2 separate regions of the Homo sapiens genome follow, and region 2 is linked to region 1. Evidence: fine-mapped expression QTL. Tissue or cell type: subcutaneous fat. Region 1 holds a variant in brackets; the other region holds the start of a gene. All regions are shown on one strand. Distances are from middle to middle.

Region 1 (2,799 bases):
AGTTAGAATGGCGATCATTAAAAAGTCAGGAAACAACAGGTGCTGGAGAGGATGTGGAGAAACAGGAACACTTTTACACTGTTGGTGGGACTGTAAACCAGTTCAACCCTTGTGGAAGTCAGTGTGGCGATTCCTCAGGGATCTAGAACTAGAAATACCATTTGACCCAGCCATCCCATTACTGGGTATATACCCAAAGGATTATAAATCATGCTGCTATAAAGACACATGCACACGTACGTTTATAGTGGCACTATTCACAATAGCAAAGACTTGGAACCAACCTAAATGTCCAACAACCATAGACTGGATAAAGAAAATGTGGCACATATACACCATGGAATACTATGCAGCCATAAAAAATGGTGAGTTTTTGAGATGGAGTCTCGCTCTGTCACCCAGGCTAGAGTGCAGTGGTGCAAGCTCAGCTCACTGCAACCTCTGCCTCCTGGGTTCAAGCGATTCTCCTGCCTCAGCCTCCCGAGTAGCTGGGATTACAGGCGCACACCACCATGCCCAGCCAATTTTTGTATTTTCATTAGAGATGGGGTTTCACCATGTTGGCCAGGCTTGTCTCAAACTCCTGACCTCAAGTGATCTGCTTGCCTTGGCCTCCCAAAGTGCTGGGATTACAGGTGTGAGCCACTGCGCCCAGCCAAGACCCTATCTCTATTAAAAAAAAAAAAAAAAAAAAATTAGCCTGGCCTGGTGGTGCACTATTTGGGAGGCTGAGGTAGGAGGATCGCCTGAGCCTGGGAGGGTGAAGCTGCAGTGAGCTTTGATTGTGCCACTGCACTGTAGCCTGGGCGACAGAGCAAGACCCTGTCTCCAAAACAAACAAATAAACAAAAAACACCACAAAAACAAACAACACTCCGAGGCTGTTTGGTGACAGAGCAAACGGTTCTACTCTCTCAGCACCCTGCAATCACACACAATGACAACCCTGAGTTCATTCATTCCCTCATTCATCCCAACACCCATTAGACATCAAGAAAACAATCTGACCCACAGCACAGGTTAGAAGAGTATGGATTCCTGTTTGCTAAGGTTTGTAACAGGAGGGAAAAAGGCTTTAAAGGTAGAGAATTAAGTTTAGAAAAATATTCATGAAAAAAATAAACTCTTTGGTGATGAACAGGTTACTAAGAAATTCACCTCTGCCCTCATTCAAATGAAGCAGAGTGATGCTTGCTCTCACCAGGCTGAGTGAATAGAAACATTTGCTTATTAACAAAA[A/G]CATCCTGTGATCCCCACCCCTACAGATTCCTACAAAATTTTTTTTTAAAAAGCGCCCAGGGCGGGAAGCAGAAGTTTCCTCATTTCTCATGAGAAGCCGATGCCCAATTTCTTTCAGGATTTCAGTCATAAGAAAAACCGCTATTTCCATAAATCTACCAGATTGTGGGTTTTGAATAGTTTCAAAACACAGCAGAAGATTCCCTCCTGGGTCCTTGCCAGTAAGACTGGCTCAGTGACACAGTCAAGCAGGCCAAGATCAAACAAACCTACAGACAGCTCCCTGCCAAGTACCTACTATGTGCTGGGAGCCAAACCAGCAATCAGAAAGCTGATAAATGCTATGGGAACCCGGGAAAGGAACTTCTAATTTGCAGCAAGGCCCAGGGCAAGGACTCTAAAGGGAATAACCTTTGAGCTGAGTTCCACAGATAAGGAGGAGACAGACTTATCGGGTAGGCAAGTGTGGGCTTTCCAGGCCCAGGGAACAGCACATGCGAAGGCCAAGAGGTAAGAGAGCACGCTGCTTGTCAAAGTATAAGTGCTTTATGGTTACACTTACTCGAGCTGCTGTTCAGAGGGAGAAACGGGGGCAGGTTATAAAACGACGTGAATTTCTACACCAAAAAAGTCACAAGCAACCACTGCGGGCGGGGATCGAGAAACATCAGACCGGACACACTCCACACTTAACACAACTACACTCTGTTGAGAATAGGAGAACCCCTGGGGGAATCCCAGGACGGCCTGAGTCAATAGCTGAGTCTAAGAAAAACCTTACCTTACTACCTGCTTCCTGGAGTCTTGACACAAAGAAATTCACCCCAGCCTTTCTTAGCAGAAATGCAATGCAGGCAGGCCAACATAAGCTATATAGAAAGCTGCAGACGTTAACAGTCATAAGCTTCCAAAACAAAAGGGAAACTGCCTGATAGCACACGTTTCTAAGGGCAGAGGTGAGGATAGAAAAGTAGTTGCACAATTAAAATACACCATCCTCTAAAATGTGCATTATATCAAGGTTTGAAAATTCCCCGACTTGCTAACTCTGAGTCCATGGCAGACATGATTAGTCAATCACAGCACTTTCTGACTTAGGGTGGAACTAGGCCTCAGAATCCTTCTGAACACAGCCCTCCACAGACTACCAGTTAATGGAAGTTAACACATGGAACAAAACCTATCTTCCTTCCATGACTGGTACATAATGTGTATAGTCCTTTTTGACTCCACTCTGGTTCTTTAAGCTGTAGTCATGCACATGTTCAGAAGACACTTTTTTTTTTTTTTGGAGACAGAGTCTCACTCTGTCACCCAGGTTGGAGTGCAGTGGCACAATTTCGGCTCACTGCAAACTCCGCCTCCCGGGTTCAAGAGATTCTCCTGCCTCGGCCTCCCAAGTAGCTGGGACTACAGGCACCCACCACCACGCCTGGCTAATTTTTGTATTTTTTAGTAGAGACAGGGTTTCACCATGTTGGCCAGGCTGGTCTTGAGCTCCTGACCTCAAGTGATTCATCCGTCTTGGCCTCCCAAAGTGCCGGGATTACAGGTGTGAGC
Region 2 (2,500 bases), 69 kb after region 1:
CCACAATTAAGTCCTTGAGTCTGAAGTCAATTGCACTATCTACACCACGTAAATGACAGTCATTCAATTCCAAATTTCCTTCATCAAACCAACTGCCAGACCCACTGTCCTGGAGTTCTTCAAACACCTACGAATGTCCAACAGGCACGTTAATACTGAGATACCAGCGTCTCCACCTTCAGAGAACTACCCCCCACCCCACACACACCCCGCCATGCAACCTTCCACTCCATTTCTACTCTCAAACTTTCTAACGCACCATTCTTTCCTTCCTCCGAGAAGAAGGTAACTTACATTTGCAGCATAATTTGGTTCAAAAAGATGCCGTCCACTAAATCCATGTACATAGTCAGGTTGTCCTGGCTGCCGCTTCCAAACGGGCCAAAAGTTTTCACCTGCGGGGAGGGGGACGAGGAGAGAAAGACAGGAAGTCACCCCGTGCGCACAAACGGTCCAAAGCTCTCCCAGGCAGAGACTGGACGGGTCAGTGTGAGCAGAAGGGGGTCACCCACGCCCACACCACCCTTCAGCAGGCACCAAGCCCGGCCTTCTCCTAGGGCCTGTCTCCCCTCCCCGCGCGGGGCAACAGACACGAGACAGGAGGAAAAACTTCCTCGCCACTTTTCTCCCGCGTTCCAGAGCGGAAGAAATAAAAATAAAAAGGACTTTTCAATAAATGTCTCACGTCTCAAATCCATTGTAAATCAGTGCGCCCACCCCAGTCTGTTCGCTTTCCCATTCGGCGCCCCCCATTCCCCACCCGTCACCGCCATCCACCGGCTGGTCTCAGGGATTCAGAAAAACTACATGAGATATTTGGTTGGGAAGAATGGGGTCCTTTTCGGGAGTGGCTAAACCCCAGGGACAGGAGTGACCACTGGGACCCGGTCCGCCCCGAGGCAGCCAGCCTAGAGCCCCAGCGGGAACAGGTGTACCCGCCCGGCTCCTGGCCCGGCCGAAAGCGCGGCGGGGTCCCGCGCCGGACGCACAACGGGGGCGCCGGCTCCAGAGTTACAAAGCTCCGGACTCCAGGACGCGGCCCCAACCCCGGCCGGGAGCCACTTGCTGCGTCCCTCGCGCCCCGGAGCCACCCGGGGCCCCGGCCGTGTCGGGTCTGCGGCGTCCCGTCGCCGGGCTAGAGAGAAGCCGGTGCACCAACAAAGGGGCGGGGAGCCAGGCGCACTCACCCAGGTCACCAGCGGGCTCTGCAGGAAGAGCTCCAGGAGCTCCGAGACTGTCACGTCCATGCTGAGGCTGCGCCCGCCGGCTCCGCGCCCCCCGCCCCGCGTCCCCGTTCCCCCGCGCCGCGGCACAAAACGGCTCCGCAGCGAGCAGCGGGCGCGGGGCTGCGGCGGCTCGCGCCCGGGAGACAAAGGCGGGGCGCGCGAGCCCACGTTCCGCGGCTTCGGCGGCCCCGCGCCCCGCCCGGGTCTGGGGGAAGGGGAGGGCCAGCCGCTCGGGGAGGAACAATACGGGCGGCCCCGCCCCTCGGCGGCCCTGGGCGACCGGCGCGCCGCCTCGCGGTGCCAGCCCGGGAGCCCGGGAGCCCGGGCGCGGGACCAGGCTACGCGGGGCGCTGGGAGGGGACTGGTGGCCCGAGGCGGGTGGGTCGCGGGGCCCGGCTCCCCGCCCGTGGGACCGCGCGCCCTCGCCGAGCGCAGCCTCCCCGCGTGTGGGGCCCCAGCACGTGGCGCATCCCTGCGCGCGTGCGCGTGCAGCCGGGGCCCGAGCGCCACGTGCGAGCTGGGGTGCGCGGGCACTGGTGCGTGCCGGGAGCGGGGACGCCCTGCCCTCCGAGGTTGCTCTGCCCTCCGAGGTCGCCCGCAGCTGCCGCCCGCTCTGGGCTTGGGGACCTCGGCCCTGCGCCTTTCCGCACTCCTGGCAGGTGCAGCCCCAGGTACAGTCAAGAGGCCCCGCAAACCCCCGCTCCTCACGCTTGTGCGCGGCGCGATAAACGCGCCCCGACCCTGGGGCTGGGCTGGAGGGCAAAGAAGAAACTTTATGTTGAGTTTAGGCCTTAGGGGCGCGGCCCCTCGCGCCCTACCGTGCCCCACCGTGCCATGTTCCGGGCTGCCTGCCTTCTAAAAGTTCCTGCAGGAAGCAGGTGATGTGGCCTCCCCGACCCGGGCCCGCCCCCACCACTTTGCCGGAGGCGAGCTAAATTCCAGCCGGGGTTCCTAGCAGCAGCTTAGTGGCAGGCGACAGGAAAAAGGGCAAAGGCCCCAACTGGCTGGAAGGCAAGCCCGGGGGCAGGACCTCCTTGCGGGACGGCACGAGGCAGGAGCCGGCTCCAGGCTGGTCTCGGCCTGGTAATAATTTCACACCACCAGCCGGTCATTGTTCAAAGCACTGTAGACCATTTTACTAATTTAACCCTAACGATCGCCGCATTTCGCAGCTGGGCCAACTGGTACAGGGTTGACCCGAAGGGCCCTGCGTGGCGCTTGGCAAGTATACAGCAGGCACTAAATGGCTGCCGACAGGCTCGGTGGTAATTTTG

Which allele goes with the higher level. Positions count from the first base shown, and alleles are read on the strand shown. Sizes are in standard deviations (SD) of each study's normalised expression.
In carriers of allele G in region 1, the expression in subcutaneous fat of the gene that starts at base 1,377 in region 2 tends to be lower than with A alone (large effect, 0.75 SD a copy in TwinsUK).

The links. PIP is the estimated chance that this variant, and not a neighbour inherited with it, causes the effect.
Region 2: CCDC88C starts here. The variant in region 1 is fine-mapped to the expression of CCDC88C in subcutaneous fat (TwinsUK, PIP 0.92).

What each region holds. Positions count from the first base shown.
Region 1 is chr14:91,347,649-91,350,447 of GRCh38, forward strand. All of the region lies in intron 4 of CCDC88C (coiled-coil domain containing 88C), which reads right to left. Among named protein-coding and RNA genes, the nearest start is that of CCDC88C, 69 kb to the right of the region's middle. RefSeq lists an enhancer at 1,614-1,693. The variant A/G (reference allele first, on the strand shown) is at 1,240.
Region 2 is chr14:91,416,444-91,418,943 of GRCh38, forward strand. CCDC88C (coiled-coil domain containing 88C) reads right to left here and starts at 1,377. Exons shown (of 30, transcript NM_001080414.4): 1 at 1,188-1,377; 2 at 295-395. The coding sequence starts at 1,247. CCDC88C-DT (CCDC88C divergent transcript) reads left to right here and starts at 1,803. Exons shown (of 3, transcript NR_184261.1): 1 at 1,803-1,897. It also overlaps the pseudogene LOC112268126. RefSeq lists enhancers at 1-252, 1,858-2,500 and a silencer at 873-1,792.